5 linked regions of the Homo sapiens genome follow. The protein of the gene in region 1 interacts with the protein of each later gene in a biochemical or structural test. Each region holds a gene or a part of one and is shown in the gene's direction. Other genes may lie near its edges.

Region 1 (5,755 bases):
CCGGCAGCTCCCCTCCCTGAGGAAGGGCGTCGTGTCCACCGTAATCATGGCTCTTGGCCATTTGATTCCAAACCCTCACCTTGGCACACGTTCTTCCTTGAAGGAGCCGCTGTCTTCTGTTCACTTTTCTGAGTCCATGGCACGAAACCTTCCACCTGCCTCTTCCTCTTCTTAGCAGTTATCACCGAAGTGCTGCTCTCTAGATACTGAGGTTAGAAGGTGGGAGTGGGGGACCAGCTAACGGGGTCAAGGCCACACCAGCTCCTGCAGCTCCCTTACGGAGCAGACCAGGGAGTGGGAAGGAATGTGCTCTTGCTGTTGTCATGCCACTTCAATTTTTCTTTTCTGTTTTGTTTTGTTGTTGTTGTTTTTTGTTTTTGTTTTTGTTTTTGAGACGGAGTCTCACTCTGTCACCCAGGCTGGAGTGCAGTGGCGCGATCTTGGCTCACTGCAACCTCTGCCTCCCAGATTCAAGCAAGTCTCCTGCCTCAGCCTCCTGAATAGCTGGAATTACAGGCACCCGCCATCATGCCCAGCTTATTTTTGTATTTTTAGTAGAGACAGGGTTTCACATGTTGGCCAGGATGGTCTTGAACTCCTGACCTCAGGTGATCCGCCCACTTTTGCCTCCCAAAGTGCTGGGATTACAGGTGTGAGCCACCGTGCCTAGCCTCAATTTTTCAAATCAAAGTAGGTTCTGTTTGAGGACATAAGGTATGTCAATATTGGGTTGTCCTTTTAGCAGGGATTGAAAGGACATAGGATTTAAATAAAGGTGGCTGCTGTGGGTATCTTGGGCCACACCTGAGGATAGAAGAATTCCAGCTGTAAAGTGTAGAAATGGATGGGAAGTAGCACTGCATAGCATAAAGGATTGTATAGGGCCATCAGCACGTGATTCTAGTCTAAGGGAAGAGAGAGGTGATAATATGCTAGGAGCTGTTGAAAATAAGGAAGGGGTCCCTTTCGCCTCAGGAGGGGAGGAATCACACAGCCTTCCCCCTGCCCCCTTTCATCTGCACTGCCTTCTTGGTTCCTTTTGGCTTGGTTGACATTCAGGTGGATTTATACCCTCAAGTTCATTCCCCCTGTGGACTCAATGGTGATGAGCCCTGTTCACTGGCAAGGGGTCCACTGAGATCACAGGCTTCCCAGGGACCTCATGTGAACCACATCCTCTCAGGGAAGGAAGGGAAATGGTGGACCCTGCGTAGAGCCAACCCGACGCCAAGCCCAGCCCCACAGCCCTAGATAGCTCTCCGGGAAGCACGCATCTCAGCACTAGTGTCCAAGAGTCTCCGTTCCTGAAATCCTCGCTAGAAATAGTAATGGGTGGATTTGTAAAAAGAACACATCAATTATCAAAACAATGACATGATCAGTTAGGTACAGCCTGTTGTCAGGAACTCACTGAACTGTTTCAACCCTTTTTTATAAATCAAAGAAATCCTTAGGACTTTTCTTTTTTTTTTTTTTTTTTGGATCGGAGTTTCACTCTCGTCACCCAGGCTGGAGTACAGTGATGCCATCTCGGCCCACTGCGACCTCTGCCTCCCGGGTTTGAGCGATTCTCCTGCCTCAGCCTCCCGAGTAGCTGGGATTACAGGTGCGCACCACCACAGCCGGCTAACTTTTGTATTTTTAGTACAAACGGGGTCTCACCATGTTGGCCAGGCTGGTGTTGAACTCCTGACCCCAGGCAATCTACCCACCTCGGCCTCCCAAAGTGCTGGGATTACAGGCATGAGCCACCGCGCCCGGCCAAGAAATCCTTAGGAATTTTCTTAAGAGAAATCTTAAAGCCCACTTTAATCTTTCTCCAAGTATAAAAATACTTATCTGTAATACTGCCGACACACACCTTTCTCAGTTCATGGAACACCACCCTTTAAGGGGCCCAATTGAGCAGAGGATTTGGGACAGCCCTCCTGGTCTCGGTGTTCAGATTTCTCCTGCCTGTCACCATAGTGAATCATGAGTGAAGGCTTATTCGACTCTTTCTCTCTTTTTTATTTTTTAAAATTAATTTTTGTAGAGACGAAGTCTCACTGTGTTGCCCAGGCTAGTCTTGAACTCTTGGGCTCAATCCGTCCTCCCGCCTCGGCCTCCCAAAGTGCTGGGATTACAGGGTGAGCCACCTCGCCTGGCCTTATTCAACTCTTTCAAAGGCCTCAACTTCCCCTACCTCTTAGATTTGTCAAGTTAATGCTGTTTTAAACCGGAAACCAATGGTCTGTGGTGTTTTCCATTACATGTATATTATGCATTTCTTCTTTCAAATGTCCAAAAATACGTACATTTTAATGTCATGGCATATTATTACATTTAATCATGAATTACAGTCAATTTAATTGCTACTGGGGTGGGTGTATTCATTATGTTGTATTCATTCAGGTCCTCCAAAGAACAGACACCAGAACAGGATTAGATGGGCGAGAGATTTATTGGGGGAAAGAGCTGTGATGGAAACAGGGAGGAAGGTAGGGGGAAGGGAGAATTCAGACCATAAGGCCAGTCTGACCCTGGGAAGGAGACGGGAAGGGTAGGAAGAGTCAGGGATGGCCCTTACAGGTCTGTAGAAAGTTTTGGTCGTGCTGATGGAGAGTCCATGAGCCACTTACCCACCAGATGAGTCTGAGTCTCAGCAGGTGACTGCCATGGTCTCCCGCCTCCATCAGTCCTCAGCTGGGTGCAGCCTCAGAATCCACGCAAATGTGGCAGATTCCGCAGGCATAAGTAATCAGGTTCACTCCTCGTGGTGGGAAGTCCTAGAGGCACATCTCCATGGCCCCCAGAGTCCTTACTGAAAACCCTTAAATTTCACCATGCTTGAAAATGTTCATGACGAAACGTCAGGGCCGGAGGAGCGCACATTCCACACCTGCATCTGTCGCAGGCGCCCCTTGCGTTGTAAGTGACAGCTGCTTTGCTTTGCAGAGTGGAAATCTTGTCCACAGCTACCGAGGCACTGGCGGCATCTTCGAGGTGTGCTGGAACGCCCGAGGAGACAAAGTGGGTGCCAGCGCGTCCGACGGCTCTGTAAGCAACACCTCTGGTTTGCTGGGGAGTGGGGTGTTGGGGGCAGCTGATGCCTAAGTGAGCTTCCAGGGCGTGTGCAGCATTCGTGTCCTGAAGGGCCTAGCCCAGTGCCAAAGGAAGCTTCTGGGCTGGATCCCATCGGAGTTGGTACCACATCTGGGAATGGCCTTCTCCTTGTCCCTTCCAGAGTGTCCTTCTAGTCAACATTTTCTCAGTCAAATTGGTGGTTCTCAACCAGGGTGATTCTGCACCTCTAAGGACATTAGACAATATCTGGAGCCATTTTAGGTTGTCACTACAGTCATGTGTCGCTTAATGACGGGAACGTTTTGGGAAATGTGTCATTAGGCACTTTTATCTTTGTCTGAACATCATAGAGTGACTGACACAAACCTAGATGATAATACCTGTCCCACACCGAGGCTGTGTGGTACAGCCTATTGCTCCCAGGCTACAAACCTGGACAGCGGGTGACCATACTGATTCCTGTAGGCAACCAGAACACAATGGTAAGCATTTGTGCGTCCGGATCTATCTAAACATAGAAAAGGTTCAGCAGATATATGGTTATAATCTTACAGGACCACTGCGGTCTGTGCGGTGCGTTGTTGCTGGAAACGTCATTATGTGACGCGTGACTGTGCTTAGATGAGGATGCTGCTAAACCTCCTACTGTGCACAGGGTGGCCACAATTGTCACCCATGCTGTGGCTGAGAAGCCCGGGCCTCTGGTGGCCATCCTGCAGGTCTCCTGGGCCCTCTTCTCTTCCCATGGGGCATCTGGATTTCTTATTTTCCCCTGGACTTGAGGTTGCCCTGACCTCTGGGGCAAGCGGCCGTTCTGGCTGAACGGCCAAGGGTCAGAGTAGTCCCCAAATGTTGTCAGAGGCTGTGTACTTGGGCTCGTATTGTCATCTGCCCCACGATTGCAGGTGTCCCTTCTGGGACCTCTGCCACTCTGTTAATTCCTATCATTACCCTTAACCTGGCCTTTCTGCTCTGTGCTGTTTGCTTCAGTTTGCTCGGTCCGATGTCCAGATGCCAGTCTGTTATGAGAGCTTCTCTGACCCTTCATGACGATGTTCCAATAAACTTTACTGACAAACATCGGTGGAGGGCTAGATTGGGCGTGGGGGCCGTAGCTTGCCGACTTCTCACTCTAAAGGCATCTTTGTATTGTCTCTCAAGATGACAGGTGCTTTATCTTTCCTTCCAGGTGTGTGTTTTGGATCTGCGGAAGTAACCACAAAATATTATCGAAAAAAGAAAAGAATTCTAATGACCAGCCGTGAATGTGTAGGGTTGCAGCTCTATTCTCCAAAACTGTAGGAACTTGACTTGCGTTAGAGTGTACTCTGAAACCAACTCGTCTCTGGCCGCAGGAGTCTATATGTTTTCGTAATCTTCATCAAGAAGTTTTTAAAAGGCAAGCAAAAACAGAAGCAAATCATATCAAACGGGGATAGAATGGTTTCCACTGAGGACATTCAGCCTGGGAAGGAGGAAGTCACCAGCTCGAGGCGTGTGGATTGGTTTCCACCCGGAACAGGCTCTGTGATGGCTGAATGGAAAGAAACGTAAAAAGCTGTGCCAAAAAAAAAGCAAAATGCTGTGATAAACCAAACAGGGAAGGGGGAAAAACCCTCCTCCTTGGGATTTTTTTTTTTTGTTTTCCCTAACAATTTGGACACTACAATTGCTCTCACAAAGGAGGTTCAAAGACCAGTTTGTACCGATGAAACGCGCAACTTTGTAATCCCAACACTTTCTATTTTCTAGAATCTTCTTTGTTCATTGGGTGGTTTTTCAGTCGGCTGGAATTCTATCTTCTGGGGGCCTTCCGTCTGAGATGGAAGCTGTCTTGGGCTTGTTGTCTCTTCCTTCTGTTGCTCCCTGCCCCTCCCCCTGCCTTTCCACTCTGTCTGGTGAGCTCTGCTTTTTCAGTGCACCATCAAGAGATGCAGCCCCGTGGACATGAAGACACAATCTCCCACGGACAGCTTTCCCCCTTCCGCCCTCTCCCACCCTCTCCTCCCCTTGCGCTCGCGCTCGCGCTCGCTTTCTCACTGGCGTGCTCTCTTTCTCTCTCTCTCTCCCTCTGTACCTTTCTCATAGTTGCTTCAGATCTTAGGTCTCAAGGGCACTTTGGCGCGTAGTAAGTGCTTTATGTAAGAAGGCAGGGCAGGGGGGCTTTTTACAGGAGAAAAAAAAATGACTTATAAGAGAAAGAGCCTGGAGTATTTTTGGAAAAAAAAATAATATTTTTATGTTAAAACAATTTTAAAATCTTAAAATGGCCATCAGACATAGAGAGCTTTGTGTGATTCATGTTTTAAAAAGAACCGAAGAAGCCACAGGCAGGGCCTGAGGGAGCCCCTGGCTTTCCCCTCAGCCTCAGGAAAGGTGGTCAGGAAAACTCTGGCTGGACAAGGGTCAGTCTTCGGGGTCAGCAGCGAGATTGCTCTGCAGCCAGTGAGGGAGGTCCCCGCCATGCCGGCTGGAAGAAGAACCTCGCATCTTTTGGTGTGTATGCACCTTGGCAGCCAGCAGGAAAGCAGCGAAGAGCCGCGCGCCCTCTGGCCTCAAGGGAGCATTGGCAGAACCATAAGGTACTGCAGAAGCCGTCGAAACCGACTGCTCGGCTGGATTAGGCGTGTTGGCTACATCTTTCCCACAACCGTATAACGACCGATGGTCATTTCTCCAAGAGCAGGCT
Region 2 (5,755 bases), on another chromosome or scaffold:
AGTTCAAAAGAGGGGTGGGGCAGAGAGCGAGTCTGCCCCTCCCCCCAGTGGGCACGTGCAGGCCCTTGGCAGTACCCAGACACATTTGGAGTTAAGGCTGGGCAGGAGAGAGGGATGGGGAAATAAACATGGTGGCTTAGGTTGGCACTGCTCCAGGTCTGCAATGTAGCAACTGGTAAGTGGCAGGGGCCTGGGGGAGGGGACCCTCAGGAGCCCTGGCCTGGGGCAGGAGCTGCCCATGCCATGTGGCTGCCACTGGTGTTCCCCGCCTGGCCCGGCCCACAGCAGCCAGTGCTCATTCCTGCACACACTGGTCCTCCTCGGCTGCCCCCAGGACCTGCTCCCCGGGGCTGCCCCTCTCTCAGCATGCCCACTCCTGTGCTTGCCTCCTCCCCTCCCTGGGGGCGCTTGGGCCTCCGGCTGGCGAGTGGATTTTTCCAGCTTCTGTAAACAAGTGGTGGCAGTGTGCCAGGCGGGCAGGAGACAGGCGGGGGCAGCACCACAGCCAGGGTGTGCCAAGCACCGAGGCACAGCCTGGGGGGCAGACGGAGACACCCAGACCCGGAGAGAGAGACATTCAGACACAGACAGACAGACAGACATGCAGGCAGCCTCGCTGGACGTGGAGTCAGAAGATCGTCCTCTATTGTCCAGCCCAACCCCCGTAGCGGCCCTCGCCCCCTGCCCCTCACTGTCTGGCTGAGAGCATTAGGCCCCAGTGCCCAGCCCCTGGGCTTCCCCACCCACTCCTTCTCCTCCCCAACCTCCACCCCTTAGGGCTGGCTACGCCATTATAAATTTATAACAGGAATTTCTCCACAAGCCAAGAAAAACTTGACCTACTTTCTTGATGGCTCCCTGGGCTAAGGCTCCCTGCTCATGCCCCCCCACCCCAGTCTCCTGTCCAGCCCCCAGTGCCCAGTCCTGGTCTGGGGTGGGTATCAGAGGTAGAACGGGCCACTTTTCTGTGCAATGCCCATGCTCTCCACACTACCAGCTTGCCTGGGTGCAGAGGCCCCGTTCTGCTGCTGGCCCTGCCCAATCCCCTGACTTATCTCCCTCTCTCTTCCCACCCTGGCTGCTTATCAGCTCCTGGGGGTGGGGCCAGGGGGCCTAGGGGTGAGGTCTCCTATGCAGCAGCCACGTGACAGAGGTTGAGGTCGTATGTTGGGGAGCTGTACCCTTTGTCCCCCTCCTACCCGCCACACCTGCCTGTGTGCACACAGACAGTAAGCCACAGGTCTGCAGCCCAGGGTCAGAGGTGCAATGCCGTAGGAATGGTGGGCCCGGCTTGGCACTGCCCTGGACTCCAGGTAGCAGAACAAGGCTAGCATTAGGGCCAGGCTGTGAGGCTTATCCCACAGCCACCTGCTTACTAGTTGTGTGAACTTGAGTGAATGACCAAGCTTTCTGAGACTCAGTTTCCTCATCTGTGAAGTTCTCGTGCCCTCTTTGGAGGGTACAGATTCTCTCTCCAGTTAATATGTGTTAGTTTCCTTTCCTTTCCCCCTTGCCATCCTGGTCGATAGCAGCTCAGCTAAACCAACTGAGAAGTCTGGTCCTCTGCCTGGGAAGTGGGATTCGAGACCTTGCGTGGGAAGCTCTGGAGTCCCTGAGGGGCCAGAGTTGGGGATCATAACTTGGCTGGCAGCATGGGAGGTCAGTTCCCTACAGCTTTCAACATCTCTCTCTATTAAGGCACAAAGATGGGCATTCATGCTCACTGCGTGCCGCTCTATGTCCCATCCTTCCTTCACAGATACCCTCCCTGCCTATGCTGAAAACTGCTTGTCTCTGGTCCCCTCTTGCCCCTATAATACAGATGAGTTTCAGGAAAGCTTTTCTAGAGGGGTGGTAACAATAGCTAGTGTTTAATAGTTGCTCATTAAGGGCCAGGCATTTGTCTGAATATGAAGACTGAGACATATTACTTAGTACATGAATGATCTCATTCTCTCCCTCCATTCCTTCCCATGTCTGGGGCTTAGGAGGTGGATCTCCAATCTCGCCTGCTGTACCTGTTATCTAAGGGATCATCCTGGTCCCCTCTCTATGCCTGCCCTTCCTGCCCCCTGCTGTCTTGTTATGGGATCCCAAAGCCCCAAATGTTGCCACCAAAGGGATCCTACCCACCTTCCTACCGTGACACCTTCTTACCCCTGCCTCTCTCTTCTCTCCACAGGGATCTCTGGACAGGACAAGACTCCGAAGCTACTCCCCCAGCACACAGCCCGGGACCCACAAACCCAGCTTGCCCCCAGCCCTCCCACCTGCCACTCCCTGGCCCCTCCCACCGCCCGCCCCCCTTGGGGCGCAGGGCATGGTGTGAAAGGCCAAGTGCTGAGGCGGGTATCATGGGTGCTGTGCCCTAGGGCCTGGGTGGCAGGGGGTGGGTGGCCTGTGGGTGTGCCGGGGGGGCCAGTGTGCCCACCCCAGTCTCTTGGCGTGCTGGAGGGCATCCTGGATGGAATTGAAGTGAATGGAACAGAAGCCAAGCAAGGTGGAGTGTGGGTCAGACCCAGAGGAGAACAGGTAATGGGTTCAGCAACTAGGTCATGCCAACTCCTAAGCAGCAGGCATGGGCACCTGGCTGAGCTCTCCTTTAGGCACCGCCTTTAAGCACCTCTGTGGGATGGACGTGAGGCCAGCAAGCCTTCTGCCTACCTTTGTCTGGCAGATGAAGTCATGTTCAGATGTGACAGGCACTTGGATTGAGAGATGCTCATTTTGAAGCGGGGAGCGATACAGAGCAATTACAGGGAGCACATAAGGGGCTCTTCCCTAGACATTGCTGGGCAGTCTCAGATGCCCCCAACGTCCCTTCCACCATTGCTGCCCTTACCTTGAGCATGTGGGATCCAAACAGCCTTGCCATTTTCTTCCTCTCCCTACCAGCCCATTTACTATCTGACCACAAGTGTGTTGTCCACAAGCTGCGGTTCACGTAATACATTTCAGGGCACATGCACCAGTAACTATTGGTCATAGCCCAAGCTTATATTCGGAATCTATTGGGAGCCCCACAAGCTCTTCCTTGTTCATGGTCAAGGGCGGGCACTGCGATGGGGCTCCTCCCAGAAAGTGCACGCCAACCATGATGGTTTTGCTTCCACATGGGTGAGGTGTCAGCCCTGCACATACACCAAGGGATGGTTACCTGTGATCTGCATTGCCCTTGAGGAGCCCAGAGGGTCTCTGTCTTTTCTATCAGCTCCAAGTGGCACAGAGCTTTGTCCCAGTTGGCACGGTGCCCTGGGAGCTGGGTACAGCCTGTGCCTATGGCCAGGGAGAGGGTGGGGGTGGGGGTGCTCCGGGGAGCAGTGTGGCTGACTGTTGCCTAGGAGATCAGATCCCGAGCCAGGAAGCCAGAGGCCTGGCCAGGCAAAGCCCTAAGGCCCACAACTGGGTCCCTGGAGGGTAGAGGAAGTAGATGGAACTCACAGCTGGGCAGGGCATGGGGTAGCTCCCCTCCCCCAAAGCCTCACCCCAGGAAGGACTCTGAGGACGATCTGGCCTGTCGCTGTGTGGCTGTCACTTGCAGCCCCTGTGTCTCCCAGCTTAGGCTTCTGTGGGTCTGGAAGAGTCTGTGCTTAATGTTTGGAGAAAGGCAGGAATGCCAGTTCCCAGTCTCCTAAGACTGCAACCCCTCCCCCATCACCTTCCCCTCCCCCATGTCTATGCGCCACCTTGTGGCTATCTCTAGGACTACACTCAGAGGCTGTGAGTCTGGTGGTAACTGCTGAAGCCGCTAGCTCAACTGGGGCCTAGGTGGGCTGAGTTCCCCTGCACCCAACCCTCTGGGAGGCGTGAGGGAGACCTGACCTTTCAGCCTCATAGGAAGTAGACCGGAGTAATCCCCACGGGGCGTGGAGCATAGGGTTGTCTGTGACTGTGACCCTGGCCAAGGTCACTGTGTCAGTGTGTTGGGAGCTGCATCCGGCTCCAGGAGGAAGGGGCCTGCAACATGCCACACGCAGGGTGGGTGCGGGAGGTTATACAATCCTTGCATGCATGTAGAGGGCTTATGTAACCTGTGTGCACCGAGGTTATGCAACATGTATGTGGAGAGCCTGGCAACATATATGTGCAGTGGCTGAGGGTTGCTAATAATACGCTGCACAGAGGGGCTCAGTCCCGGCTCTGACTCTAGCTCATGGTGTCACCAGGCACAAGCAGGGTCTCAGTTTGCTGCTCTGTTAAATGGAGGCTGTGCAGAGGGTGTAGTGTTTTCTATTGCTGTGGGTTATTTAGCATGTGTGTATGACCTGGAGCTCAAGCAACACGTGCACACTGGAGGGATGAGGGTGGTTTTATGAGGTGCCTGTGCAGAGTGTTGTGTAACACATGGGCATATCCTAGAGGTTGTATAGCACATTTAAGAATGCCCTGAAAATTTCACAGGTATGTTGGCCCTGGTGCATACTCACCATCCATGGGTTTATAGTGAAGGTTGCATGGTTATTCATCTGTGCCGGTGTTATGTTGCATATGTATGTGTGTGTTCTAAAGGCTACATAGCTTTAAGCATATCCTGAGAATTCTTCCAGCGTATTCGTCATGTACTGAAAGATGAGGATGTCCTGCAGATTATGGGTGCTTCAGGTCTTCTGGCGGGTGAATGTGTGTGTGTTGGGGCTCTAGAATATGCTTGTGCCACAGCCAAGCCCCTTATCTCTCTCCCCTGCAACTTCCAGATAACTGGACCCTTTTAAGCATTGTCAGCTGACCCTGGGGGGTGGGAGGTAGAATGAGGACACAAAATGGAAAGAATCAGGCCTTGGGGGATTGCATAAGCCTCTCGGATGAGAAAGGGGCTACTCGAAGACTGCTCTGTGATTCTGCCCACTTTGCCTCCATCCAGTGCCAGGTCACCAGATGGAAAGCGAAAAAGAAAGAACGGCCAATGTTCCCTGAAAACCAGCATGTCAGGTGAGGCTGGCTGTGCGTGCCCCTTCTCCACGTCCCCAACCCCACCAAACCCAGCCAGGGCTCCTCTGGACCTGGATGTGGAACAGTAATTCATGTGTTCCCTGGGGGGAGCCTCCTAGAGGGCTTGGGATGGACTTGTCTGGGGGTGAGAAAGGTAATGTGGGATGTGCCCAGCTTTTGAGGGTGGATTAGGTCAGGACGGCCTCTTCCCTCTTCCCCTAATACCCTCATCTGAGGCCCTACCAGAATCAGGGCCTGAGCTGAAGGACTGAGGGGCTGTATTATCCCCAGTGAGCAGCTGACGTTTATTTTTCCCTCTCCACCATCCTCTGCCTTGTAGATAGATCAAGAAGAAAGCCCTGAATGGGCAGTCAGAAGAACTGAGATTCTTCATACTCTTAGGGCAGAGATGGACAGGTTCACCTCGTGTCTCTCTAGGATTCTACCAGGGAGGCTGGGCTAGGAGAGGGGTCAGAAACAAAAAGTTGAGGGATGGGGAAAAGTGTGAGAGCCTCTCTGCTGGGACTCCAAGCCATGCCTGCCTTCCTCCATCCTTTCCTTCCTCCCAGGGTATATCCCTAGTTACCTGGACAAAGACGAGCAGTGTGTCGTGTGTGGGGACAAGGCAACTGGTTATCACTACCGCTGTATCACTTGTGAGGGCTGCAAGGTATGGAAGCTACCTCCTGCCCCTCCCCTGCCACCTGAGCCCCCATATTACTCCCTATGTCACCTAAAGCCCGCCTGTTAGGTCATCACTTTTTTTTTTTTTCTTTGAGACGGAGTCTCACTCTTGTCCCCCAGGCTGGAGTGCAGTGGCGCGATC
Region 3 (5,755 bases), on another chromosome or scaffold:
TAACTTCAGTCTGTAAATGTGAGGCTGTTCACCTCTGGTTAAAAATCATAACTGTTTTCTCACGTTGACTCCTTTAATTTACTACATTTAATCTTTTTCCAACAGTATTTTTGGAATTGTGTATAATGTGAGATGCTCTTAAGGTTAAGTGCATGAGTATATGGACTGTAGGTGTTAGTGTTTGGTAGTTCCTAGACCTGTTTTTGCCTGACTCTTGGTCTAGATCAGGGATCAAGCTTAAGGCCTGTTTTTATCAACTTTCGTTGGAATATAGGCACATCCATTCGCTTACATATTGTCCTAAGCCCGTTTCACCAGTATAATTGAGCAGCTATGGCTGGGCACAGTGGCTCACAACTGTAATCCCAGCACTTTTGGAGGCCAAGGCAGGAGGATCACTTGAGGCCAGGAGTTCAAGACTAGCCTGGGCAACATAGCGAGATCCTGTCTCTAAAAAAGAAAATACAGAAATTAGCTGGGCATGGTGGGGCATGCCTGTCTGTAGTCCTAGCTACTCAGAAGGCTGAGGAAGGAGTATCACTGGAGCCCAAGAGTTCAAAGTTGCAGTGAGCTATGATGGCACCACTGCACTCCAGCTTGGGTGACAGAGCCAGACCATGTCTCAAAAAAAAAAAAAAAAGAATAGAATTGAGTAGCTGTAACAGAAACCAGATGGCCCACAAGCCTAAAACACTTAATATTTAGCCCATTAAAAAAAAAGTTTACTGACCCCAATCTAGATAGCAGAGGTTTTTTTAGATAAGTGACTTCCAGACAGATATTTTCAATTATTTACAATAATGCTTTTATATATTAATAAATTACTAATTTGTTTAGCTCATGGGGTTTAAGGAATAATTTATGAATTGTGATAAATATTGTGCTTTGAGTTATATTTGCATTTTGTTGATTTCCCATCATTTCAGGGTAATTTTTAAGATTTTTACTCTTACCTCAAAGGATAAAATATTTCACAAAGTTAATAAGTAATTTTTAAATTATAAAGGTATTTGATGAAATTTTGAAGAATTTAGAGGAAAATGTAAAACATGGAAGTTAAAAGCCTGAACTCTGAAGTCCAACAGATGCTTTCCTTCCTTCTTGGCTGTGACACAATATTTGCATAACCTTTAGCACATTACTTAGCCTCACGTCAGGTCATTTTCTCATCTGTATAACTGTTGATGTGAAATTGAAATGAAGACAGCCTGGTTTATAACATTCAACAAGTGTTAACTGTTACTGTGAGTTATAAAAATTGCACTAATATAAACAGAAGGCGTGGTCATTTCTACCTTTGTAAAGCTATTATTTGATTTCTAAACAGAAAGATCATACATGGAAGCGAATCAATGGACTCTGGAATATCCCTGGACAACAGTTATAAAATGGATTATCCTGAGATGGGTTTATGTATAATAATTAATAATAAGAATTTTCATAAAAGCACTGGTATGTGTCTTACATAATTTTTAATCCTTTTCAAATGTTTGTGCCATTTACATTTGATATAATATTAAAAGCAGTATTATTGAGGTATTAGACAGTAAACCGTGACACAGACTAGCTGTGAAGTAGAGATTGGGCAGGACCTACAGGTCCTCTGATACACTGTGAACGCGTCACTCTTCTGCCCAACTTCATAGCCTCCTCTTGCTGGCCTCCTATCTGTATGCTTGGTTGCCTCTGCCCTGACTTCTCTGTAGCCCTTGCTTCTTTTTCTTCTTTCTGCTTCCTCTTTGATCCCAATGGAAGGTTCTCAAAAAAACAGTTAAGTGGTAGTATTTATTTTTTCCCCAGAAACTGCAAGAGATATCACAAGCATTGCCTTATTTAATTTATGACAACCTGGAAAGTAACGATGAGATTCTGAAAGGTTAAAGACCTCGCGCAGTCACACAGTATGGCGGCAGAGCTAGGTCTGTGTGGCTCCAAAGCCCAAGCTCTGAATCCATCTTCTGTTCTGCTTCACTTCCTTGTATCCTCATGTGCTCTGTTGCCTGTCTTCCCTTACCCTACGAAGCTCCCCATCTTAGAGAGACCTTTCTTTTACTCTGTTCCTTTTGATTCCTTTGATATTTTGTCTCCTTCCCTTCTTCCTTAAATTTTGAATACATGTAGTTTAAGCTTGTACTCTTCATTTGTTTCCATTCCTTCTTGAGTCTTTTTCCATTTTCTGTCTCTACTACTAAAACTGCTTGCTTTAAATTTACCATGGCCTTGCCACCAGATCCCCCTCTCGATTTCTGTACTATGTACAACTTGAATGTAGTACTACATTTGAGAATGTTTTTTTAGAAATATAGATAATAAAATCCTTCACAGTGCCAAAAAAGCTAATTAATATTTGGTGTATTGTTATTTTTTCTTGGCAGTTCTTTTTAAAGCTTGATTTTATTCATAACGTATAAGCAATGTTGTCTTCTGCTTGTTTCACTTAAAGGAATAGCATTTTTCATATTGCTGCATAATTTTCATATCTGTTATAATGATTATATAATACTGCATCCCCAAAACTACCATTCACTTAATTTGAATAATTTACTGTATGAATGAACATTATGGCTGTTTCCCTTTTAAATTGATGCTATGATAATTCTTTGAATTGGCCTATTAATCATATTAGAGTTAATTTTTAATTAGAGAAGCTGTAGTAGATCTAAGGTGGGCCAGTACCTATCAGAGTGGTGGTGGAAATGGAAGGAAGCCAGATTACACTGGGAAGATAGCAGGGTTTGTGTCAGATTAATTATAAGGAGTGAGAAGAGAATAGTTGAAAATGGAGCTCTAAATGGCATCAGTTTTATTGCTTTTGGCTATAAGTTGAGATGCCACCTTCAACCATTAACTTAAAAACACAACACCTTGTTTACTTTTGCTTTACGCATATTTGAAAATTTACTTCTAGATATTCTGCCTCACATTTCTAGTTAGGATACCTCCTTCCTATAGAATTTTGCACTGTTGGCTCTATTGTTTCAAAAACCAAAAACAAGCATATTATTCCACTACCACCAGCACCTCCCCCCACATATTTAGACCAGCAGTCTGGGTTTTGCCCAGTGAGCTCCTTTCCTACTTTGCAATGTAAAGGTCAGGTTCTCATGAGATCTCTGGCAGGCTGGTGTTGGGCCAGGCGCCATGGCTCACACATGTAATCCCAACACTTTGGGAGGCCAAGGCAGGAGGATCCTTGAGCACCAAAGTTCAAGATCAGTCTGGGCAACACAGGGAAATCCCATCTCTACAAAACAGAAAAAAGGTAGCAGGGTGTGGTGGTGCGCACCTGTAGTCCCAGCTACTCGGGAGGCTGAGGTGGGAAGATAGCTTGAATCTGGGAGGTTGAGGCTGCAGTGAGCTGTGGTTGCTGTACTCTAGCCTGGGCCACAGAGCAAGATCCTGTCTAAAAAATAAAAATAAATAAAAATTAAAAGGCAGCCAACACATCAGCACCAGAAGCCAGTGACCTTGTCACACAGCTGAGATAATCAACAACATTTTGGAGATACATGTAGACTTTCTGTATTTAATCTTCATACCCATCAAATTTACTCAATTCTGAGGGATGTTTCCCACCAAGATTTAGCATTTTGAAATCTGAGTGCATCATGCAGTCAATCTGTACGTTAATGTGGAAGGTTCTCTAAAGGAGTGGTAGAAAGCCCAGGAGCCCTGGATACAGGCCCAGCATAGCTTTGTCACTTTGGACTGGTTTGTTAACTCTGCTACATGTCCCACATCTGCACAAGTGAAACTAGTAATAATATGACTCTCATGGTGATTGGAAGGATTAGAGATTAGCCATAGCAGAATACCTGATGAACAGTAATAATGTTTGGGGGTTTTCCTTGAAGGCACTATAAATGTTGTAATGCTATCTTAAAATTGTTGGGAAGTTAGAGTCAGAGAAACGCATTTCCTCTGAGTGTGACAGATGTGTGTATGTATTATAGGATCGTATTGTTTTCTAGTCTTATTTTTTTAAACTGATGATTTTCCCATGGCAACATTTTATCTGTGAAAATGACAACATAGTATATCCCATTATATAAGTTAGTATAGCTTGTCTAACCAAACCCTTATTGTTAGACATTTGTGTTTTTCACTACCTAAACCGCTGTGAAAGACATCATTTTGGCTATAACACTGATGAGCTTATATTATGAAGTATCTTATAAGCTACAAAATTGAAGAAATTTTGTTCACCATGTTCAAAATAGTTAGAATTCTCTTACCATTTAAAAGGAAGAATTTATTGTGGACTTCTGAATTGCTGAGTAGTTAATTTCATTTCAAAGTAGTTATTCTTTGTTTTCCATACAATTAAAAGTAATTCTTTCTGTTCCAAGGAATGACATCTCGGTCTGGTACAGATGTCGATGCAGCAAACCTCAGGGAAACATTCAGAAACTTGAAATATGAAGTCAGGAATAAAAATGATCTTACACGTGAAGAAATTGTGGAATTGATGCGTGATGGTAAGAAGAAACAATTAGAATGAACTTCATTGTACAATTAATTTTATACTATGGTCTAGCAATAATTATATGTATAATAAAATATGAGAATTGTGGAATTATACTGTACATAACCCTAATCTTACATACTTTAGTAAGAAGTTTAAAAAAAGTTATTTATGCCAACTTCCTAAAATGGTTTGAGATGTGTTGCCGTGCCCCAGGTTAGGTTAAGATGACCTCTTAGTTTTAGTCTCAGTTTCTTCATCATGTTCCCATACAGTATATCTGAAGTTGTTGAATAAAGTCATGGATTTTTTTTCCTTTTATTTGCAAATGTCTTTACAGTTTCTAAAGAAGATCACAGCAAAAGGAGCAGTTTTGTTTGTGTGCTTCTGAGCCATGGTGAAGAAGGAATAATTTTTGGAACAAATGGACCTGTTGACCTGAAAAAAATAACAAACTTTTTCAGAGGGGATCGTTGTAGAAGTCTAACTGGAAAACCCAAACTTTTCATTATTCAGGTAATGTCTAACTGAGTGATTTGGTTATTGACGATTAAGCAGGGGTTACTATTCTCAACTGTAAATTATCCAAAGGATAATTTTTTTCCTGAAGCTAATGAACTATTGTTACTTTTCATTTATTTACCACTTAAAAGATATAGAGTAAATTTTAATTTTATACTTATATCAAAAAGACTCAGCATAATTAACATCCTTTTTTTTTTTTTTTTTTTTTTTTTTAGACAGAGTCTTGCTCTGTCGCCCAGGCTGGAGTACAGTGGCGCGATCTCCGCTCACTGCAAGCTCTGCCTCCTGGGTTCACGCCATTCTCCTGCCTCAGCCTCCTGAGTAGCTGGGACTACAGGCGCCTGCCACCAGGCCCAGCTAATTTTTAAATTTTTTTTTAATAGAGACAGGGTTTCACCATGTTAGCCAGGATGGTCTCGATCTCCTGACCTCAAGTCATCCGCCCGCCTTGGCCTCCCAAATTGCTGGGATTAAAGGCGTGAGCCACCGCGCCCGGCCAATTAACATCCATTTTTACATAGCATTTCAATTTTTTAGAACTAAGTTATGTGTTCACACACAAATTTTTATAAATAAATATTTATTTTCTAACACCCAGGCCTGCCGTGGTACAGAACTGGACTGTGGCATTGAGACAGACAGTGGTGTTGATGATGACATGGCGTGTCATAAAATACCAGTGGAGGCCGACTTCTTGTATGCATACTCCACAGCACCTGGTGAGAACGTTACACATAATGAATGTTACATGTGGATTTTAAATGA
Region 4 (5,755 bases), on another chromosome or scaffold:
TCTGCTTGGGGGAGCAGCTGGCTGAGGAGCCGCAGCCCCACCTCGAAGCCAGGCCTGTGAGGCGGCTGCTGTTCTGGAAGGAGGGGATGGGGGTTTCTGGCTGCTGTGCCCACCAGACCGGTTGCCAGGGATTGTGGGCAGAGCTTCCTGGGCCAGCATTAGGGGATAATCCGGTTTTCCGGATTTCCCAGGGAGGGGGCCTCTAGACATCTGCCACAGGGTCAGTCCTCAGAAGCCAGTGTTGAGACGGGGGTGCTGCCACCCACGAGGACTCTCCCTTCCCGCTGTGCCTGGGAGGGAGTTGGGGGAGCGTGGAAATACAGAACCTGCTGAGTGCCCAGGGCCGCTGCTGCCCAGCCACTGCCTGCAGCTGCTGTTCCTTCAGGAGCCAAAGTGAGCCCTGGGGCAGGGGCCGCCAGAGAGAGCCCTCCACAGCCGACTTGCTGTCTGCCCTTGGCAGGGCGCTTTCCTTTTCTGAGCCTGGGTTTGCTCCGGGGAAAAGACATTCTTAGAGGTGCCCAAAATAAGAGGCTCATTGGGACTTGGTGGGGTTTGGTACAGATGAGGCCTTGGCTGTTGTCAAGGATTGCCGCCTGAAACCCAGCACCAGGCTTGGGGGGCCTGAAGTCTTGGGGAACCGCAGGACAGTTCTGAGACTGAAGTTCCAGCCTTGCTCTGTGGCCGCGGCCAAGTCACTTGCCTTACGGGGCACCAGTGAGTTCCCTGTCAAACAGAGGACACCCCCCAAGACACCCCGCGTGCCCTCCCTGTCCAGGAGGGGCCCGTCCACGATCCAAGACCCCCAAAGTGCCCTGCCTGTCCGGGAGGGGCCTCGCCCACAATCCAAGACCCCCGAGTACCCTCCCTGTCCAGACCTCGCCCACGATCCAAGACCCCCTGAGTGCCCTCCCTGTCCAGACCTCACCCACGATCCAAGACCCCCTGAGTGCCCTCCCTGTCCAGACCTCGCCCACAATCCAAGACCCCCGAGTACCCTCCCTGTCAAGGCCTCGCCCACGATCCAAGACCCCCGAGTGCCCGCCCTGTCCAGACCTCGCCCACGATCCAAGACCCCCGAGTGCCCTCCCTGTCCAGACCTCGCCCACGATCCAAGACCCCCGAGTGCCCTCCCTGTCCAGACCTCGCCCACGATCCAAGACCCCCGAGTGCCCTCCCTGTCCAGACCTCGCCCACGATCCAAGACCCCCGAGTGCCCTCCCTGTCCAGACCTCGCCCATGATCCAAGACCCCCGAGTGCCCTCCCTGTCCAGACCTCGCCCACGATCCAAGACCCCCTGAGTGCCCTCCCTGTCCAGACCTCGCCCACGATCCAAGACCCCCTGAGTGCCCTCCCTGTCCAGGCTTCCACCACGATCGCTCTGGGGGTGCTGCTCTCGTGCCTTGGAGTGCTGAGTGCCACCAGGACCCCTGACCCAGACAACCTCTGTGTCTGGCACTGGGGCCCAGCAGGAAAACAGTGAGGCTTCCTTGTTTACCTGCTGTGGCCCAGGAGGGCCGTGGGTGGCATCACGCCCCAGGCTGCAGGCCAGACAGCTCTGTCACCTGGCACGTGGCTTCAGGCCTCCCTCTGTGGCCGTCCTTGCCAGCAGATCTGGACCTCCAGGGCCTGGGTGACCACAGGGGGCGATGCTGACAGGGAAGGAGTCCTGCCAGGTTTCTGTGACCTATGGGTCTGCCTGCCTGACCCCCCAAGACCGGACACCTGAGGGCAGACGGCCATACTGACTCATCCCCTCCCACGGCCTGGGCCAGGGCAGGTGTCACAAGTGTTTGCTAACTGAGCAATCATCTGTGCTAACCCTCCCCACACCCTGGCTGCCAAGGCCCTGGAGGTGCAGCCCTGGTCCTGGGCTTCAGCTCCATCCAAGGGGAGCCTGGAGCCCCTGCCAGTCCATTCTGTCTGCTGGTGGGTGCCCCTGGCCTGGGTCCCATATGCCTGACCTGGGCTGCCACGGGCCTGGAGCCACGCGGGCAGCCAGTGCCCACGTTCCCCAGCAGTTGTGCTGGGCCGGGTCCCGGCCACCTGGACTGTGTAGGAGCTGGGATCAGCTCGGGTGACTCAGAAAAGGCTTCAGGCAGCCTTCTGGGGACTTGACCCCAGGCCTGTGAGAGTCCCTGCCTTGGGCAGGATACGGTGTCCCTCACACACACCCTCAGGCACCAGCACTGGGAGTGGGATGGCCTTGGGCACCTTGTGAGCTGGGGCAGGTCTTGGGGCTGGGCTGGACTGAGCCACCTGCCTTCTGCCCCTGCAGGCGCGCCTCAAGTTCCCCATCGACTACCCATACTCTCCACCAGCCTTTCGGTTCCTGACCAAGATGTGGCACCCTAACATCTACGAGGTGAGCGCGGCCCCCACGGGCCTCAAGTCCTCATCCTCCGGGACCCAGGGTGCTGGGAGCCTCACGTCCTCATCCTTCCGGGACCCGGGGCGCTGGGAGCCTCACGTCCTCGTCCTCCGGGACCCGGGGCGCTGGGAGCCTCACGTCCTCGTCCTTCCGGGACCCGAGGCGCTGGGAGCCTCATGTCCTCGTCCTTCCGGGACCCGGGGCGCTGGGAGCCTCACGTCCTCGTCCTCCACGTCCTCATCCTCCGGGACCTGGGGCACTGGGAGCCCGTGCTGACCTCTGACCTGTTCTGACCTGTCTTCTTCTTGTGCAGACGGGGGACGTGTGTATCTCCATCCTCCACCCGCCGGTGGACGACCCCCAGAGCGGGGAGCTGCCCTCAGAGAGGTGGAACCCCACGCAGAACGTCAGGTAAGCCGGCCCAACCCCCTGTGTCCACCCAGAACATCAGGTAGGCCGGGCTCCGTCCCGTATCCACCCAGACCATCAGGTAGGCCGGGCTCCCCCACAGGCTGTGGCGCCAAGGCCTGATTCGGGACCTGCCAGCTGGCGGTCCTGGGCCTCGCTGTACCTGCACGGTAGGTGCTTTCACGGGGCCTGCGGCACCGTGTGTCGGTGCAGACTCCCACCAGGACCCCAGGCCGGCCCCACCGTCTGGAACCACCTAGAGGTGTCCCGCCATCCTCAGTCCTGGGGCCTTCTCCTTACCCAGCCGTCTCTGGGTTGGTCACCTCGTGCCACGTGTGCCGCCTGGGCCTCGTCCCCAGGTACAAGCACTGGGCCGTGTTGCCCGTGTGTCCTGGAGTGTAGTCTAGGCAGGACGTGCGGGTGTGAGGGCAGCCCCGGGTCTGACGGAGGGGTCTGCACCTTGCTGCCCTCCCTGGTCTTGGCGTGGGAGGGAGGAGACTGATGCAGGTCCAGCCCCTGCTGTTCTGGGGGCCTGAGACAGAAGCAGAGGCCATGAGGCCAGGTGAAGGTCACCTGCTGGGTGGGTCCAGGCGTCCCCGTGACCCTCAGGGCCAGAGAAGAGCCGGAAGGCTGGGGTGCCCCGGGCCGCCCCACTCCGACCCACTCTCCCCACAGGACCATTCTCCTGAGTGTGATCTCCCTCCTGAACGAGCCCAACACCTTCTCGCCCGCAAACGTGGACGCCTCCGTGATGTACAGGAAGTGGAAAGAGAGCAAGGGGAAGGATCGGGAGTACACAGACATCATCCGGTGAGGGCGGGCGGGGGCGTCACGGGAGGAGAGACTCAGATCCGGCCTGCACCCCGGCCCCTGGTCCCACGGCCGCCCAGCCCCACCTTCCTGGTGAGGGTGGCGGAGCTTCCTGGTGCCCATTTACAGGGTGCCAGTCACAGATGGAGGCCGGGCCGAGTGGCGGAGGGTCCAGCCAGGTTCAAGCCCAGCTTCTTGCCCCTTTTCCTCTTTTTTTTTGTTTGAGACAGAGTCTCTCTCTGTCACCCAGGCTGGAGTGCAGTGGCGCGATCTCGGCTCACTGCAAGCTCCGCCTCCCGGGTTCACGCCATTCTCCTGCCTCAGCCTCCCAAGTAGCTGGGACTACAGGCGCCCGTCACCACGCCCGGCTAATTTTTTGTATTTTTAGTAGAGACGGGGTTTCAGCGTGTTAGCCAGGATGGTCTCGATCTCCTGACCTCGTGATCCATCTGCCTCGGCCTCCCAAAGTGCAGGGATTACAGGCGTGAGCCACCGCGGCCGGCCTTTTTTTTTTTTTTTTTTTTTGGAGACAGAGTTATACTCTCTTGCCTAGGCTGCAGTGCAGTGGTGCGATCTCGGCTCACTGCAGCCTCCACTACTCGGGTTGGAGCAGTTCTCCCCCTTCATCCTGCCAAGCAGCTGGGATTACAGGTGCCCACTACCACGCCGAGCTAATTTTTGTAATTTTTAGTAGAGGTGGGATTTCACCATCTTAGCCAGGCTGGTCTCAAACTCCTGACCTCAGGTGATCCACCCGCCTCGGCCTCCCAAAGTGCTGGGATGACAGGCGTGAGCCACTGCACCTGGCCTGGTGGTTAGTGTTTTCATAGATTCTTCCAGGCTTTTCAGTTTAACGCATGTCTGTGCTTTAATGAAGAAATGGGGTCGTGCTGTGTGTGCCCAGTGACTGACTGTTAGGGAACATGTGTCTGTGCCTTAATGAAGAAATGGGGTCGTGCTGTGTGTGCCCAGTGACTGACTGTTAGGGAACATGTGTCTGTGCTTTAATGAAAAAATGGGGTCGTGCTGTGTGTGCCCAGTGACTGACTGTTAGTCAGGGGTGTTGGCCTTACTCATGTCTGGAGTGCGTCCCTGCAGGCTCTTGGCCTGGTGAGCTCTGGGTACAGCTGTGCAGTCGCCTACCGGCGCCTTCTGTACCTGCAGTCCACTTAGCTTGCGTGGCTGTGTGTGGTGACCCACGGCTCTCCCTCTCCTCCCATCGCCCTCATGCCCCAGAGCTGAGCCCCACAGCCCCTTCTCTTGGGTGCCTGTGTTCACATGAATGTGTAAACACGTGCGTGTCTGTGTACAAAGACAAGGCTTTCTTTACGGGTTGACGGCCTTAATGGTTCCTGCTCTTCCTGTTACATAGAGGCCCTTCCTATCCATTTTTTTTTTTTCTCAGAGTGATATTGCATAGATTTCCTCACAGAGGCCTCACCTATTTTTGTTGGTATTTTGTATAAACAGAATCTTAAAAACAACTTTTAAAATATTGCACACATAATGCATGTGTCTTCCTCGCCCCAGGACCCAGGAGCATCCAGGGCACCTTCCATCCTGCACTCGCTGGTACCTGGTGTCGTGGGGTCATCTCGGGGCAGCATCCTGGTGCTGGGCGGTCTCGGCTCTGAGCAGCCATGGTGGGCGGGCCCCGTGCGGCCTCCTGGGAAGTGGCCTGCAAGCACCTGCTGGCCTCTGGAGGTCACAGGGTAGCTGCCCTGGCCGTCCCTCTGGTGCAGATGTCCTCGGTGGCCCCGGTCCGGTCGTGTCACCTGGCCCAGGTGGCTGGCTCCTTGGCCCGGTTCTTCCCGGCCACCTCCCTGAGGCACCACCTCCTTGAGATCCCAGCACAGAAATAAAAGCCACACTATTTTTATCCCTCAAAACTCCCTGTGGGCCAACACACATGTGCCATGTGGACTCTGCTGTGGTCGCCGTTTCTGCCTGTTTTTTCATCTGTGTGCGTGTTGGCCTCGTGGCAGCCCAAGTCCCGCTGAGCTGTGTCGGGCAGGCTGCCGTGGAGCCCGGCTTGGTCAGGGATGTTGGTCTTGCTGAACAGGACCTCCAGACCGTCCTCCAGCTCATGCTGGCGGTGTGCCGGCGGCACCTCCACGGTGCAGGTCAGTTCCCACCCTGGCCCTCCCCTGCGTCTCCCCACAGCCGCC
Region 5 (5,755 bases), about 140 Mb from region 1:
AGTCTTTATCTGGGGATGGAATAGCTGCGGAAGCAGAGGAACTTGCAGAGCTAGGGGTTCAGAGGGGTGAAGAAGCATGTTTCAGTTCTGCCTTTTAAATGATCCCAAAAAGGTTAGCAGTTTTCAAATGACATTTGCAGACAGCCTCATTTAATTCCATGAGAAGGGTGAGCAAAGGATTATCTTGTTGAAACTGATTCCTGGAGAGACTGAGCACCGTACCTGAGTTCAAACTTGGGAATGTTCTAGATGGTGACTCAGGCCCAGGCACCAACCAGCAGAATGGGCCTCAGCCTGACAACCCTTCTGTACCAGGCCTGACTCTTTGGTTGCTGAACTTTGGAGAGGCCTGGGGGGGTCAGCGGCAGGCAGACGAGTGAGTGGCTTTGGTGACAGGTCCTCAGGGGCAGCCAGGCAGTGTGACTCTCGTTCAATAGTAACGTTTGTCAGAGCGTTGTCACCACCATCCGCTCTGCCCTATCTCTGACATTGCTATGGAGAGCCTCTAATTGTTCCTTGTGTCTTTCTGTTTGTCCCCACAGTCCCCAGGGAAAAGCCTTTCGCTCTAAAGTGGAGTTGATTGCGTACTTCGAAAAGGTAGGCGACACATCCCTGGACCCTAATGATTTTGACTTCACGGTAACTGGGAGAGGGAGCCCCTCCCGGCGAGAGCAGAAACCACCTAAGAAGCCCAAATCTCCCAAAGCTCCAGGAACTGGCAGAGGCCGGGGACGCCCCAAAGGGAGCGGCACCACGAGACCCAAGGCGGCCACGTCAGAGGGTGTGCAGGTGAAAAGGGTCCTGGAGAAAAGTCCTGGGAAGCTCCTTGTCAAGATGCCTTTTCAAACTTCGCCAGGGGGCAAGGCTGAGGGGGGTGGGGCCACCACATCCACCCAGGTCATGGTGATCAAACGCCCCGGCAGGAAGCGAAAAGCTGAGGCCGACCCTCAGGCCATTCCCAAGAAACGGGGCCGAAAGCCGGGGAGTGTGGTGGCAGCCGCTGCCGCCGAGGCCAAAAAGAAAGCCGTGAAGGAGTCTTCTATCCGATCTGTGCAGGAGACCGTACTCCCCATCAAGAAGCGCAAGACCCGGGAGACGGTCAGCATCGAGGTCAAGGAAGTGGTGAAGCCCCTGCTGGTGTCCACCCTCGGTGAGAAGAGCGGGAAAGGACTGAAGACCTGTAAGAGCCCTGGGCGGAAAAGCAAGGAGAGCAGCCCCAAGGGGCGCAGCAGCAGCGCCTCCTCACCCCCCAAGAAGGAGCACCACCACCATCACCACCACTCAGAGTCCCCAAAGGCCCCCGTGCCACTGCTCCCACCCCTGCCCCCACCTCCACCTGAGCCCGAGAGCTCCGAGGACCCCACCAGCCCCCCTGAGCCCCAGGACTTGAGCAGCAGCGTCTGCAAAGAGGAGAAGATGCCCAGAGGAGGCTCACTGGAGAGCGACGGCTGCCCCAAGGAGCCAGCTAAGACTCAGCCCGCGGTTGCCACCGCCGCCACGGCCGCAGAAAAGTACAAACACCGAGGGGAGGGAGAGCGCAAAGACATTGTTTCATCCTCCATGCCAAGGCCAAACAGAGAGGAGCCTGTGGACAGCCGGACGCCCGTGACCGAGAGAGTTAGCTGACTTTACACGGAGCGGATTGCAAAGCAAACCAACAAGAATAAAGGCAGCTGTTGTCTCTTCTCCTTATGGGTAGGGCTCTGACAAAGCTTCCCGATTAACTGAAATAAAAAATATTTTTTTTTCTTTCAGTAAACTTAGAGTTTCGTGGCTTCAGGGTGGGAGTAGTTGGAGCATTGGGGATGTTTTTCTTACCGACAAGCACAGTCAGGTTGAAGACCTAACCAGGGCCAGAAGTAGCTTTGCACTTTTCTAAACTAGGCTCCTTCAACAAGGCTTGCTGCAGATACTACTGACCAGACAAGCTGTTGACCAGGCACCTCCCCTCCCGCCCAAACCTTTCCCCCATGTGGTCGTTAGAGACAGAGCGACAGAGCAGTTGAGAGGACACTCCCGTTTTCGGTGCCATCAGTGCCCCGTCTACAGCTCCCCCAGCTCCCCCCACCTCCCCCACTCCCAACCACGTTGGGACAGGGAGGTGTGAGGCAGGAGAGACAGTTGGATTCTTTAGAGAAGATGGATATGACCAGTGGCTATGGCCTGTGCGATCCCACCCGTGGTGGCTCAAGTCTGGCCCCACACCAGCCCCAATCCAAAACTGGCAAGGACGCTTCACAGGACAGGAAAGTGGCACCTGTCTGCTCCAGCTCTGGCATGGCTAGGAGGGGGGAGTCCCTTGAACTACTGGGTGTAGACTGGCCTGAACCACAGGAGAGGATGGCCCAGGGTGAGGTGGCATGGTCCATTCTCAAGGGACGTCCTCCAACGGGTGGCGCTAGAGGCCATGGAGGCAGTAGGACAAGGTGCAGGCAGGCTGGCCTGGGGTCAGGCCGGGCAGAGCACAGCGGGGTGAGAGGGATTCCTAATCACTCAGAGCAGTCTGTGACTTAGTGGACAGGGGAGGGGGCAAAGGGGGAGGAGAAGAAAATGTTCTTCCAGTTACTTTCCAATTCTCCTTTAGGGACAGCTTAGAATTATTTGCACTATTGAGTCTTCATGTTCCCACTTCAAAACAAACAGATGCTCTGAGAGCAAACTGGCTTGAATTGGTGACATTTAGTCCCTCAAGCCACCAGATGTGACAGTGTTGAGAACTACCTGGATTTGTATATATACCTGCGCTTGTTTTAAAGTGGGCTCAGCACATAGGGTTCCCACGAAGCTCCGAAACTCTAAGTGTTTGCTGCAATTTTATAAGGACTTCCTGATTGGTTTCTCTTCTCCCCTTCCATTTCTGCCTTTTGTTCATTTCATCCTTTCACTTCTTTCCCTTCCTCCATCCTCCTCCTTCCTAGTTCATCCCTTCTCTTCCAGGCAGCCGCGGTGCCCAACCACACTTGTCGGCTCCAGTCCCCAGAACTCTGCCTGCCCTTTGTCCTCCTGCTGCCAGTACCAGCCCCACCCTGTTTTGAGCCCTGAGGAGGCCTTGGGCTCTGCTGAGTCCGACCTGGCCTGTCTGTGAAGAGCAAGAGAGCAGCAAGGTCTTGCTCTCCTAGGTAGCCCCCTCTTCCCTGGTAAGAAAAAGCAAAAGGCATTTCCCACCCTGAACAACGAGCCTTTTCACCCTTCTACTCTAGAGAAGTGGACTGGAGGAGCTGGGCCCGATTTGGTAGTTGAGGAAAGCACAGAGGCCTCCTGTGGCCTGCCAGTCATCGAGTGGCCCAACAGGGGCTCCATGCCAGCCGACCTTGACCTCACTCAGAAGTCCAGAGTCTAGCGTAGTGCAGCAGGGCAGTAGCGGTACCAATGCAGAACTCCCAAGACCCGAGCTGGGACCAGTACCTGGGTCCCCAGCCCTTCCTCTGCTCCCCCTTTTCCCTCGGAGTTCTTCTTGAATGGCAATGTTTTGCTTTTGCTCGATGCAGACAGGGGGCCAGAACACCACACATTTCACTGTCTGTCTGGTCCATAGCTGTGGTGTAGGGGCTTAGAGGCATGGGCTTGCTGTGGGTTTTTAATTGATCAGTTTTCATGTGGGATCCCATCTTTTTAACCTCTGTTCAGGAAGTCCTTATCTAGCTGCATATCTTCATCATATTGGTATATCCTTTTCTGTGTTTACAGAGATGTCTCTTATATCTAAATCTGTCCAACTGAGAAGTACCTTATCAAAGTAGCAAATGAGACAGCAGTCTTATGCTTCCAGAAACACCCACAGGCATGTCCCATGTGAGCTGCTGCCATGAACTGTCAAGTGTGTGTTGTCTTGTGTATTTCAGTTATTGTCCCTGGCTTCCTTACTATGGTGTAATCATGAAGGAGTGAAACATCATAGAAACTGTCTAGCACTTCCTTGCCAGTCTTTAGTGATCAGGAACCATAGTTGACAGTTCCAATCAGTAGCTTAAGAAAAAACCGTGTTTGTCTCTTCTGGAATGGTTAGAAGTGAGGGAGTTTGCCCCGTTCTGTTTGTAGAGTCTCATAGTTGGACTTTCTAGCATATATGTGTCCATTTCCTTATGCTGTAAAAGCAAGTCCTGCAACCAAACTCCCATCAGCCCAATCCCTGATCCCTGATCCCTTCCACCTGCTCTGCTGATGACCCCCCCAGCTTCACTTCTGACTCTTCCCCAGGAAGGGAAGGGGGGTCAGAAGAGAGGGTGAGTCCTCCAGAACTCTTCCTCCAAGGACAGAAGGCTCCTGCCCCCATAGTGGCCTCGAACTCCTGGCACTACCAAAGGACACTTATCCACGAGAGCGCAGCATCCGACCAGGTTGTCACTGAGAAGATGTTTATTTTGGTCAGTTGGGTTTTTATGTATTATACTTAGTCAAATGTAATGTGGCTTCTGGAATCATTGTCCAGAGCTGCTTCCCCGTCACCTGGGCGTCATCTGGTCCTGGTAAGAGGAGTGCGTGGCCCACCAGGCCCCCCTGTCACCCATGACAGTTCATTCAGGGCCGATGGGGCAGTCGTGGTTGGGAACACAGCATTTCAAGCGTCACTTTATTTCATTCGGGCCCCACCTGCAGCTCCCTCAAAGAGGCAGTTGCCCAGCCTCTTTCCCTTCCAGTTTATTCCAGAGCTGCCAGTGGGGCCTGAGGCTCCTTAGGGTTTTCTCTCTATTTCCCCCTTTCTTCCTCATTCCCTCGTCTTTCCCAAAGGCATCACGAGTCAGTCGCCTTTCAGCAGGCAGCCTTGGCGGTTTATCGCCCTGGCAGGCAGGGGCCCTGCAGCTCTCATGCTGCCCCTGCCTTGGGGTCAGGTTGACAGGAGGTTGGAGGGAAAGCCTTAAGCTGCAGGATTCTCACCAGCTGTGTCCGGCCCAGTTTTGGGGTGTGACCTCAATTTCAATTTTGTCTGTACTTGAACATTATGAAGATGGGGGCCTCTTTCAGTGAATTTGTGAACAGCAGAATTGACCGACAGCTTTCCAGTACCCATGGGGCTAGGTCATTAAGGCCACATCCACAGTCTCCCCCACCCTTGTTCCAGTTGTTAGTTACTACCTCCTCTCCTGACAATACTGTATGTCGTCGAGCTCCCCCCAGGTCTACCCCTCCCGGCCCTGCCTGCTGGTGGGCTTGTCATAGCCAGTGGGATTGCCGGTCTTGACAGCTCAGTGAGCTGGAGATACTTGGTCACAGCCAGGCGCTAGCACAGCTCCCTTCTGTTGATGCTGTATTCCCATATCAAAAGACACAGGGGACACCCAGAAACGCCACATCCCCCAATCCATCAGTGCCAAACTAGCCAACGGCCCCAGCTTCTCAGCTCGCTGGATGGCGGAAGCTGCTACTCGTGAGCGCCAGTGCGGGTGCAGACAATCTTCTGTTGGGTGGCATCATTCCAGGCCCGAAGCATGAACAGTGCACCTGGGACAGGGAGCAGCCCCAAATTGTCACCTGCTTCTCTGCCCAGCTTTTCATTGCTGTGACAGTGATGGCGAAAGAGGGTAATAACCAGACACAAACTGCCAAGTTGGGTGGAGAAAGGAGTTTCTTTAGCTGACAGAATCTCTGAATTTTAAATCACTTAGTAAGCGGCTCAAGCCCAGGAGGGAGCAGAGGGATACGAGCGGAGTCCCCTGCGCGGGACCATCTGGAATTGGTTTAGCCCAAGTGGAGCCTGACAGCCAGAACTCTGTGTCCCCCGTCTAACCACAGCTCCTTTTCCAGAGCATTCCAGTCA

What was found.
Region 2: the proteins of TBL1X (region 1) and THRA form a complex in vitro, tested with the Homo sapiens proteins (one study listed by BioGRID).
Region 3: of the proteins of TBL1X (region 1) and CASP3, one has a biochemical effect on the other in vitro, tested with the Homo sapiens proteins (one study listed by BioGRID).
Region 4: of the proteins of TBL1X (region 1) and CDC34, one has a biochemical effect on the other in vitro, tested with the Homo sapiens proteins (one study listed by BioGRID).
Region 5: the proteins of TBL1X (region 1) and MECP2 form a complex in vitro, tested with the Homo sapiens proteins (one study listed by BioGRID).

Annotation. Positions count from the first base shown.
Region 1 is NC_000023.11:9,711,965-9,717,719, forward strand, and holds part of TBL1X (F-box-like/WD repeat-containing protein TBL1X), read left to right. Parts: intron 1-2,937; coding exon 2,938-3,039; intron 3,040-4,255; coding exon 4,256-4,282; 3' UTR 4,283-5,755. UniProt on the Homo sapiens protein: F-box-like protein involved in the recruitment of the ubiquitin/19S proteasome complex to nuclear receptor-regulated transcription units. Plays an essential role in transcription activation mediated by nuclear receptors.
Region 2 is NC_000017.11:40,072,010-40,077,764, forward strand, and holds part of THRA (thyroid hormone receptor alpha), read left to right. Parts: intron 1-579; exon of another isoform or gene 580-1,659; intron 1,660-2,182; 5' UTR 2,183-2,479; coding exon 2,480-2,532; intron 2,533-4,861; coding exon 4,862-4,929; intron 4,930-5,498; coding exon 5,499-5,599; intron 5,600-5,755.
Region 3 is NC_000004.12:184,630,991-184,636,745, reverse strand, and holds part of CASP3 (caspase-3 isoform a preproprotein), read left to right. Parts: intron 1-1,327; coding exon 1,328-1,452; intron 1,453-4,349; coding exon 4,350-4,478; intron 4,479-4,805; coding exon 4,806-4,981; intron 4,982-5,588; coding exon 5,589-5,709; intron 5,710-5,755. UniProt on the Homo sapiens protein: Thiol protease that acts as a major effector caspase involved in the execution phase of apoptosis. Following cleavage and activation by initiator caspases (CASP8, CASP9 and/or CASP10), mediates execution of apoptosis by catalyzing cleavage of many proteins.
Region 4 is NC_000019.10:533,561-539,315, forward strand, and holds part of CDC34 (ubiquitin-conjugating enzyme E2 R1), read left to right. Parts: intron 1-2,276; coding exon 2,277-2,363; intron 2,364-2,682; coding exon 2,683-2,780; intron 2,781-3,452; coding exon 3,453-3,587; intron 3,588-5,117; coding exon of another isoform or gene 5,118-5,430; exon of another isoform or gene 5,431-5,476; intron 5,477-5,755. UniProt on the Homo sapiens protein: E2 ubiquitin-conjugating enzyme that accepts ubiquitin from an E1 ubiquitin-activating protein, and catalyzes its covalent attachment to other proteins by an E3 ubiquitin-protein ligase complex. In vitro catalyzes 'Lys-48'-linked polyubiquitination.
Region 5 is NC_000023.11:154,026,238-154,031,992, reverse strand, and holds part of MECP2 (methyl-CpG-binding protein 2), read left to right. Parts: intron 1-539; exon of another isoform or gene 540-542; coding exon 543-1,626; 3' UTR 1,627-5,755. UniProt on the Homo sapiens protein: Chromosomal protein that binds to methylated DNA. It can bind specifically to a single methyl-CpG pair. It is not influenced by sequences flanking the methyl-CpGs.